Homo sapiens: one gene and its partners. The protein of the gene in region 2 interacts with the protein of the main gene of each other region in a biochemical or structural test. Each region holds a gene or a part of one and is shown on either strand. Other genes may lie near its edges. The genes, in order: IFT56, UBXN10 and IFT88.

What was found.
Region 1: the proteins of UBXN10 (region 2) and IFT56 form a complex in vitro, tested with the Homo sapiens proteins (one study listed by BioGRID).
Region 3: the proteins of UBXN10 (region 2) and IFT88 form a complex in vitro, tested with the Homo sapiens proteins (one study listed by BioGRID).

The regions. Positions count from the first base shown.
Region 1 is NC_000007.14:139,147,208-139,150,944, forward strand, and holds part of IFT56 (intraflagellar transport protein 56), read left to right. Parts: coding exon 1-83; intron 84-998; coding exon 999-1,170; intron 1,171-3,737. UniProt on the Homo sapiens protein: Component of the intraflagellar transport (IFT) complex B required for transport of proteins in the motile cilium.
Region 2 is NC_000001.11:20,192,596-20,196,095, reverse strand, and holds the end of UBXN10 (UBX domain-containing protein 10), read right to left. Parts: 3' UTR 46-3,500; downstream 1-45. UniProt on the Homo sapiens protein: VCP/p97-binding protein required for ciliogenesis. Acts as a tethering factor that facilitates recruitment of VCP/p97 to the intraflagellar transport complex B (IFT-B) in cilia.
Region 3 is NC_000013.11:20,597,920-20,601,656, reverse strand, and holds part of IFT88 (intraflagellar transport protein 88 homolog), read right to left. Parts: intron 3,007-3,737; coding exon 2,904-3,006; intron 2,207-2,903; coding exon 2,092-2,206; intron 1-2,091. UniProt on the Homo sapiens protein: Positively regulates primary cilium biogenesis. Also involved in autophagy since it is required for trafficking of ATG16L and the expansion of the autophagic compartment.

The DNA of each region.
Region 1 (3,737 bases), on a different chromosome or scaffold from region 2:
CTCAGTTTGGCCTCAATCCACTATATGCGATCTCACTACCAAGAAGCTATAGATATATATAAGCGAATACTGCTAGATAACAGGTCTGTGTCCTTTTATGCCCACTCTCCATTCCTTTCATTTTGTTAGTTTCTTCTTTAACTAGTTTGAGAATCTAGTGTCCTCTGGATCTAGTACCACTATGTGTTCAAATCTGTTTAGTTGATAATTTGGTGAGATTAAGAATTAGATATTGTCTAAATCAGGCTTTCTCTACCTTTTTTTGCATTGTCACCCTTCTAAAAGACTTTTTCCCCCAATTGCCCTCCCATGAAATTTTAATATACTGATAGATGTATATTAATATATATCCATATATGTACTATATGTATAACTGTGCTTTACATATAAAATGATTATGATTTTTTCATCCTCCCATTAAGAACCAATTTTTCCCCTTTGGGGGTAATACTGATATTACCCCAGTTGAAATGTATGGTCTAGATGTATCAAACTTAGTGTTATAGTTACATCGTAGGTAACTTGCTGACAAAATTAGATACAAATCATTCTTAAGAATTTACATTCCAACTTTAAACACTTGGCCTCTCTCTCCCTTCCCAAAAATATCTCATCCCCCTTCTTTCCATCCTCTTTTGCATTACCTTCTTAGTCTCCTACCTGCTTCCATTTCCAGCCATCAAGCCTATGTGTCTTGTCTGTTGGTCTTCTGTGTGGAGTGTGCTTGTGTTTATGTTCAATTATTGCATATATTAGTTTTTCAGTGTGAACAGCGTGAACTTTCCCTTTCTTCTCTAGTCATCTTTCATTCTACTTATATCAAAACACCCAAATATTGCAATGCAAAAAGAAAAAAATTATACTGATCATATCTTGCCCTCTTTCTTCATAAGGCAGGTTCATGAACTGTCCTCTTTGCCTTGTCCATTTGAGCTTTGTAATTTGACATTTCCGTGAAGTAGACTTAAATGGTTAACCCTAATTCTTTCATCTAATAGGGAATACCTTGCCCTTAATGTTTATGTGGCCCTCTGCTACTACAAGTTGGATTACTATGATGTGTCTCAAGAAGTTTTGGCTGTTTACCTTCAGCAAATTCCTGATAGTACCATCGCACTCAATCTTAAAGCCTGTAACCATTTTCGCCTTTACAATGGCAGAGCAGCTGAGGTATTGATGGAAGTGTGTTTTTAATGTACTTCATTCCAATTTGAATTACTTTATACTTTCCAAGTTATTCATGAAACTCTGTTATCTGTAACTCTTGATTAATATCCCTTTATCATTGCCACTGTGATTCTATAAGAACCTAATTATATGTTTATCAGGTATTCTAAAAAGAATGTTGACTTCTGAATTATCTGTGTTATGTCCATTAAATTGTAGATGATTTTACTGAGATGCCCTACATTTAAAACCAAATGCTTATGTTTAAAACCAAATGCTTCTGGCCGGGCGCTGTGGCTCAGCACTTTGGGAGGCCAAGGCGGGCAGATCACTTGAGGCCAGGAGTTTGAGACCAGCCTAGCCAACATGGCCCCATCTCTACTAAAAATACAAAAAATTAGCTGGGTGTGGTGGTGCATGCCTGTAATCCCAGCTACTGGGGGGTTCGGGGGGCGGGTGGAGGTTTCAGTGAGCCGAGATTGAGCCACTGCACTCCAGCCTAGGTGACAGAGCGAGACTCTGTCTCAAAAAAACCCAAAAACCAAAAAACAAATGCTTCAGCTTCTTCCTCTAAAATATGTGTGTGGCTCTGTGATTGAATGCCACCAACATACATCCAGTAAACCACATTAGAAACCTGGCATATCTGGGCCAGGCACGGTGGCTCACGCCTGTAATCCCAGCACTTTGGGAGGCTGAGGCAGGCGGATCACAAGGTCAGGAGATCGAGACCATCCTGGCTAACACAGTGAAACTCCATCTCTACTAAAAACACAAAAAATTAGCTGGGCGTGGTGGCGGGCGCCTGTAGTCCCAGCTACTTGGGAGGCTGAGGCAGGAGAATGGCGTGAACTCGGGAGGCAGAGCTTTCAGTGAGCCGAGATGGTGCCACTGCACTCCAGCCTGGGTGACAGAGCGAGACTCCATCTCAAAAAAAAAAAAAAAAGAACCCTGGCATATCTGTTGACTCTCTTCTTCATCTCCATGTAATCATCAGTTCCTATCAGCTATACATCCTAGATATCTCTTTTATCTATCCCTTCTTCTCCTTGGCTACTATTCTAACCCAGGAGTTTCTCACCTCTTATTTTGGCCCTTTAAATAGTGTTCCTGCCTTTAGTCAGTCTTGTTATCTTCAGTCCAACCACTGAATTTGTTCCACATGCCATGCTCTCTTACCACCATAGCTTTGTGTGCAACATTCTCACTCCTGGAATGACTTCCTTCTTTCTCTGCTTGGTACACGTCAACAAAGGTTAGCCCAAGAGGCAAAAATGGTGGACATTTTATAAATACTTAATTGGCTAACTTGTAGGCACCATGCAGAACACTTTAAATCCATTATTTAGTTTCCCTGACAAGCCTGTGGTTAGAGGCTATTGTAGTTCTCGTTTTATAGGAAACCGAGAAAACACAGGAGGCCATAGATTATTACCTCCTTTTGTTTCATTTAACATGTTTTAAATAACACATAACTTTACTAACATTTTAATAACATAATTTTATTTAACACATACACATATATACATATATAATATATAGATATAGGTAGATACATACATAGATATAGAATAGAAAATATGTTCTACACTATATCTATATACAAATATGTGGGTATAAATAGATCATTTAACATGGTTATTACTTTAGTTGATGTCAGAAGCCACCAAAATTTACATGTAAAATTTCTGCATGTGTCAAACTTTAAAAATCCTACCCTTGCCCTCCAAATTGAATTGCTTAGTATACACTTGAGCACATAGTATATACTTATATATTAAATAAAATGCATTCTTGGGGTAATAGTCATTTCAACTAAGGAGTCCCCCAAGTCTGCCTAATTGGCTTGTTTCCAGCATCAGCAGTTTAGTAAGAGACTCGATTAGCAATTTGGTATCTTTAGAGTTTTCACCCGTTAGTAAGAACAAATAAATGAAATACATTCTTGCCTTTCTACCTAGAGTCAGTCTTGGGGAAATTTACCAATTTTGGTGTGTGGTCCAATTTATTAAATGTTTACATTTTGTCTGTATATGTCTTTTCCATAGTCTAGTATGGTTACTCAATATCCTATCTATAGTATACACCTAGAATTATCCAAGTTAGGACATCAGAGTGTACTTCTAACCTCAAAAGGCAAGCTTTTTCCTTTGAAATTGTGTCAATGTAGTTTATATATTGATTTTATAATGTACTCCAGCAGTAGAAGGCTATGTCAAATGTACCAGAAGAACCTTTTTTTGGTACCAATAAGATAGAGTTTATGTTTAATTATTATAATTTTAATAAACTATTTAAATTCAGGCATTCTTCTAACTTGTATAACAGGGTCTGTATTACATTGTTCAGTGTCTCACAAACACCAATAGCATCCTGCTTTTCTAAAGTAAACAGGAAATAATTTGTAATGATTGACTTAATTCTTAAACTACTTTGAGTAACTTGTTCAGGCTTACACAACTAACATAACAAGTGGCAAATGCAGATCTCAAACTTTTGTCTGACTCCAACATAGACTTAACCACTAAAATGTCCTGCAATACACACACACAAAATGTCTCCATTCTGCT
Region 2 (3,500 bases):
CCCCACTGCACAGATCCCCTCATATAAACACGAGGTGAGCATGAAAACTATGAAACTAGGAGCTTTATTAATTAAGCCCCAGAATGATGGCTTTGTTTGCCTTCCCAAGAAGAAATGCATCCCCAGTCAGCTGCTGGACTGGAATAAATGGAGGGAAGGGTGGCAAGAAAGGGAGGGATGAAGGACAGGAGATAGAGATAAACAGTGTATTTAACTAGAACAAGGATTTCTTATTAAGTAACCTTGGTCAGCAGTCATATCATACCCCTAGAGGTAGATGATACTTTTAACTTATATCTCAACATTAAGTGAAACAGTGACCTTAGTTTTATCTCTTAATTAAAACAATGAATAGCTTTGATTTTCTCTGTACACTTTGTCCAAAAACACTCGTGCATTTCCTTGATGGGAATGTTCCTGCTGGTCAGTGTCTTTCCCCTGCCTGCCATGTGCTTTGCTGCCGTGGTGGTTGTTTGCTTGTTTGTTTTTGCAGAAACAATCCACGTTGGCGATATTGGTCAAGCTAAGTCCACCTGGGTGAATCCCAACTTGTCAAACTATCCTTTTTTTTCTCCTTAAGAAAATGGATTATATGTCCAGAATCTGGCCACCTCTCATGACATCTCTGGCTACCACCCTGGCCCGAACCACCATCACCTCTCTCTGGTCACCTTCATACCTCCAGCACTCAAGTCTTCCATCTTCCACCCCAGCCCCTCAACACGGCAGCCAGAGGGCGCCTCTGAGCAGGACAGTCTGAATGAGGCTTGCTCAGTTTTACCCGTGGGCATTTGTCACCACAGTCGTTCAGTCTCTTGGGATAGGATTTAAGTGTGTCCAAAAATACCTCCAGAGATTTGTGCTTCCGCGTCGACTGTTAGGAGGGCTGCTGCTTCCTAAACTGTTTGAACATAAAGGCACACAGATGAACGTCAGAAAGGGCTGGGAGAAGCTTCCCTAATCAGGAAAGGAAAGTGGCACGCCACCCGTGTAGACAAAAAATAAAACACCTAATTTTAGTTTTATGAGTGTTGTGTGTTGGTAACTGAGTCACCAAAAGTCTGTTCTCCTTTGATTGCTAACTCCTCCGAAGCGACCTCAGGCCTTCCCTGTTATATGGTGGGGTTTGGTTGGTTCTGGTTTCTGGATGAGAGTCAATAGGCTCGTGAACTTTTAACTTTACTGTGGGGTGTTGCCTTAATGGACTGAGAAAACAGATGTTCCTGCTTAATTCTTGGAATGACTTCTAAACTAATGCTAAAGCAAAATAATATAGCTGTCTTCTTTATTCCGTTTAAAAGGTAGAAAAGTAGATCCTCTTACCATGTAAAAGTCTCTTTTATCCGAACTTATTATGAGGATTTTATTTTTAAAACTAAGTAAAGAGAAACATCTTTGTCCCAAGAGGCAGGGTGGCTTTATTTGACATTAGAAACCCATTTAAAACGGCAGGTAAGAGCATGAACAAAAGCAAAGTTTAGTTCCTCGAATGCCTGCTTTTGTAATGCAGGTGGATCTGGCTCTAGTCTTTAAGGTTATTAATTGGAATGAATGCCCCAAGGCTGCTCTTAGTTTCTCTGTGAAGCATTTTATATGGGAGCTCTGGGGTGACTCTGGGTCCACAGTCATGTTCACAAGCCATCTCTTCCGCAGGAGTGCCCTGCCTTGAAGGCTGTTGGCTGGGTCCCCAGATATTCTCAGGGCAAGATCTGTTGTGTTATAACCACCTGCCATCTGTTGGTGCAAATTTTCTGGATTCTAGATGATGAATCACTTACTTCTCCTGCTGTTCCTTCTGCTGCCAAGACTAATTTACCTATTGGACTTTATGAGGGAATATACTAGAGTAACCTATCATGAAGGTTTGTCCTATGCAAAGTTCCTACTCCATCACTAGAAAAGGTGGGCAAGAGCTTCCTTAGCATCTCCAGAGGGTGGGATGAAGAGCCAGCAGTAACAATGTGGGATCCTCACTTTGGGGTCCTTTGCAGATAAAGCTATAGCCACTGACTTCAGTAAGGTTTGAGTTGAGAGTCCAATGGTGGGTTCATGTTTTCTTGCCAACACTTTCTTTTCAGGACACCCATGCTTGTCTCAAAGTGTGGCACTGGGTAAGCCCTCAATGGCCATCGGTTAAATGAATAACTGAGGTCTATGACCCCAAACTGGGCAAGGCTGACCCACCCAAAGCCACCAAGAGGAGTGTGCTAGGCCGGTTGAGCCCATTTAGGACAGGGGGCCTCAGCTGCAATGCAACATGTGGAGCCATCAGGAACTCTGAATTCTGATTTAGTTTGTTCTTGCCAATCCCCAAAATCAGAGTACTTGGAATGATGTTTAGGAAAAATTCAGGTGACTCTTATCCAGACAAGCTAAGTGCTGTGACAGAAGCTGAGAGCAGGAGCCCCGTCGCTTCTGCAGTGGGCATCAGAAGTGTCCGGGGAGGAGGACTTGGTTCTAACAGTGGAACAAGTGCTTTCCCAATGAGAAAACTGAAGATCAGGCTAACACACCCCTCTGTCCAGTCGTGTGTGGGAGCTGAAGCCTTAGGTTAAAATACGAGATGCACTTCTCCACTGACTCAGTTTCACACAAGTTGGTTTTTATCGTATCATCTTTTGTCCAAAAAAAAAATGTTTATTATGATGGTTTGAGTCTAGCTTTATTCACATATCCTAAAATATCCTAAAATATTTCTATGCTTATGCCTTCCACTTTTTCCCAACCCCAAAATTCTAAGCTCACCAGCAGCAGCAAACCCTAAGCACAGAAGATTCTAACTCCTTCAAGCTTGCTCCATTTCACTCAAGTTTTCTAAAGCTTTCCTGTCTGGAGAAATTACCAAGTCCCAGGTGGGTGGGATTTTATTCTTACCACAGAGTAGGTGTGATTTTATGGGAGGCTCTTCCCCCAGCCTCCTAGATCAGACATAGAGTTATGTGCTCAAGTCCTGGTGGGAAGTGAAATTCCTGTACTTTTAGGTGCTGGGCTCAAATTCTGTCTGCTGTGGTCATTAACGGGAAGAGGTGGCCAGTTGTGTGGGCCTGCCTGAGGCACCACTGGCCCCAGCTGACCTTTCCAATCAAAGGAATGGCTGACCAAACCAGGATGGTATTAAGAAATTCTATAAAACATTCAGAAATAACCTATTCTAGAATGATCTGGGCAGTGTGGGATGCAGTTAGGACCAGACCAGCCTTCTTCTGAGCAAATGGCAGTGGTGCCCATCTCCACTAAGCCTCAACGTGCGAGAAAAAACACTCCCAACCATGCAGCTTATCTGAGCACAGGATGCGCTTGTTGCTGGGGTAGCCACATGTATATGCTTCTGGAACTCCTGATTCCTGCCTTCTCTCTGTATACCCAGGAGGCGGGAGCACACACCAGAACTCAGGACTTTGTGATGACCATGCTTTGGGGGAACAACATGCACAGAATGTCTGAGTGTTCCCTACTCTGAAGGATGATTTGGCCATAAAAGGGATCAGATGAGTCATGGA
Region 3 (3,737 bases), on a different chromosome or scaffold from region 2:
ATGGCATTCAAACCATTCACAAATAGTTTTCTTTTTTCGTCTCCCACTTTACTTCGTTTTTGTTTTGTTAAAGCTTTATTGATAAAAGCTTTATATAAATACCATAAAATTCACTCATTTTAAGTATATGATTCGATAATTATTGCTGTATTTATATAGTTGTGGAACTATAACCACATCCTTATTTTAATTCATTTCCATTACCCTAAAAATAAAACCTGTGCTCATTAACAGTCATTCCCCATTCTTATTCCCAGCCCTAGGTAACCATTAGTCTTTTTTTTTTTTTTTCAGACAGGGTCTCTCTCTGTTGCTCAGGCTGGAATGCAGTGGCATGATGTCTGCTCACTGGAACCTCTGCCTCCTGGGTTCAAGCAATTCTCCCACCTCAGCCTCCTGAATAGCTGGGATTATAGGCACATGCCACCACGCCGGGCTAATTTTTGTATGTTTAGTAGAGACGGGGTTTCACCATACTGGTCAGGCTGGTCTGGAACTCCTGACTTCAGGTGATTCGCCCGCCTCGGCCTCCCAAAGTGCTGGGATTACAGGCATGAGGCACCGTGCCCGGCCCATTAGTCTATTTTCTGTCTCTCTGTCTCTTCTAGGCATTGTACATAAATGGAGTCATACAATTTGTGATATTTTGTCTTGCTTCTTTCACTTGGCATAATTTTTTGAGATTCTTCCATTTTGTAGCATGTATCAGTACTTCATTCCTTTTTTTGTCAAATAGCATTTCATAGTATGAATACATACCATATTTTATTTATACATTGCCTACTTGGTAGACATTCGTCTTGTTTCTACTTTTTGGCTATTATGAATAATTGTTATGAATGTTTGTGTAAAAGCCTTTGTGACGATCTATATTTTCATTTCTCTTGGGTATATACCTAAAAGCAGAATTGCTGGTCACATGGTAAATTTGTGTTTTAACTTTTTTAGCTAACTGCCTGTTTTCCGAAGTAGCTGCACCATTTGACATCTCAGTGAATGAGGTTTCTAATTTCTCTAAATACTCACCAAAACTTATTGTTTCTTTGATTGGAGCCATTCTAATGGATGTGATCCCACCTTATTTCTAAACACTCCTCAATATAATCCCTCTATTTCAACTCAATTAGTTTATTCATAATTCTCTGATCAGATCATAAAGACTATTATTTCCCTGACTGGTCTCAGGTGTTGCCTTTTTCTCAGATGTTATCCCTTCTCTCCTCCTAAAGAGTCAATATCAAGTATGCCTCCTTCATAAAGCCTTTCTTGATCATTCTTGTTCTCAATAATGATTTCTTCCACTGAATTATTATAGCACCCATTGTCTTGATTATTGATTATGAAGCACTTAATATATGTTACTCAATACAATTTTTTTTCTAAAATGCTCAAATTCTTGGTCTCACCTGGCTTAAAAGTACTTCAAGGGCATTGTGTTCTGTAAGTTAGATAATATTTGCTAATGATAATGAGATATTATGTAAAATTCAAAAACGAATGATCTTAAAAGATGGTATTGCAAATAAATTAACTTTCACAGAGAAACTGTACTGTGCCTAGGGGAAATTATGATCAGTAAATATCTTGGAAACTTCCTATGTCCCCACAGTTATCACTAGACCATAAGAGAACTTACTGTTTCTGCTCCTGAATATTATAATAGAAAATATCCCAGCTTCCCCCTCTTCTAAGACTCAGAAGTAATCCTTTTCTCTATTTCATTCTCAAGCTACAGCAAGAACGTAAGGGGAGCTTAATTTCTAGCCTTGTATTGATATGTTCTGGAGGACTGCTATTATGATTTTGTGTCCGCATTAAGTTATATCAGGGTAGTAATGGCCTTCAGGGTTAACCCCTTTATTGGTCACTTAGTTTTATTTCATATGATCATATACAATGCTTTAACCTTTAACTTGTCATTATAAAAATGTGTACAAGTAGTAAGAAGGGAACAGATCAAAATACTACACGTATAAATCTCATGTACAAACACTTTGAAATGTTCAACCCACTGAAAACAGGTCAGAAGAGTTATCTTGTTTCAGAAAAACACTTAAATTTTACAATTATTATCTATTGTTATAAACTTACCTCATTTGCTTATTGACACTTGGAACTTGGTCTAATGCCATTCGGTAGAATTTAATGGCTTTGGAATAATTTCTTTGCTTTAAATAGATATTTCCCATATTCATTTTCAATATTCCTAATTTAAAAAAATTTAATGAATGTATAATACTCTCATTTTTCCACTCTTTGATATTTTAGATGACTTTTAATTCATATTCTCTGAAGCATTTCTCAGTTATGAAGTCTCAGATATTATCTAAAATTCTAACTTTAAAACAGTTATACTTTTCAAACTTACCTCCTGTGAAGAAATGGAACTTAAGACAGATTCCTGAAACTATGGCTAGAAAACAACTGATTTACATTATTGTGCTTTACATTATTGTGCGTTCTTCTAAGAAAACATGGAACTTAAAGACATTTAAAAGTTAGACTCAAGAATGCCACATACATTTTAATAATATTAAAGGAAACGACATTCTGATAAACATTAATACTGCTACCAAAAAATTACACAATATAAATGCTAAATATAAACTATAATCTCTTGGGGATAAATTTATATAAGGAAAAGCACATTCTATGAGGATGTCATGGCTCATTCTACTTGTGATAACAGGATACTATTAGGCAATATACCTCATACTAACTATATTTCTTCATCTGTAAGGATTTTTATATAAATAGTATGTTTAAGCAGGATACCCCTATCATAAATACTGATTTGTTTAGAGCATAGATCATTTCATTTTAAGGAAGCATAAAATGAAGAGACATAAATTAACACTACGAAAGAATTACATCTATTGGAAAAACTGATTATGTACACTTACCTGCATTGCTAAACATCTTATTTTTGACTATAACTTGATAAGTGTTAAGTGCTTCGGCATACATTTCATTAACTGAATACTGACTGGCCAAATTGAAAAGAACCTAAGGAAGAAAATATTATAGAAAAGACACATAAGACCACTTTAGGCCCCTTTCACCTATAATCTTTCTAGAGATTAAAATCCTATAACAAAGTTAGCTACTTATATCAAGATACTCAGCCAATTATGAAATTAAGTAAACAAAAGAATTATCTTGCATTACAAATGAACATTAAGAAAAGAAGACCTGTCCTCTAAATTTCACCTTAATTTTCTATGTATTCTATTTAATTTAGTAGTATTTGCCATCTATTAATCTCTGGAGGACCTACAAAGAATAAATGTGTATCATTAATGCTGCTGGTGATCAAAGAAATAAGCAAGATCGTGAACTAAATATAAATTAAACGTGGAAATATCTTAAACCTTAAAGTCTATCAGAAGAATCTGTATAGTAAGCTCTATATACTAAATTACAATTTAAGTAATTAATTTATAGTAAATTATGTTCCTAAAGGTAAAAAATGATCATCATAAATTATCCCTGAAAGATTTCATGGAATCGTAGAGTATCAGCTATAAACAGTAAGCATCTAACACTTCAAAATTTCAAACGCCCTTTTTTTCCTATGTGTTTAGCATATGAAACCTTTACCCACTGAAAATACACCCTTTTAAACAGAAGTGCAAACATTATGGAGGTGTCTTTTCAGAATTAAATAAATGTTGCTAGAAATTAGAGGCATTAGTTTTTTTTCCCCACTACCCTCATAGAACATTATTTTATATGCC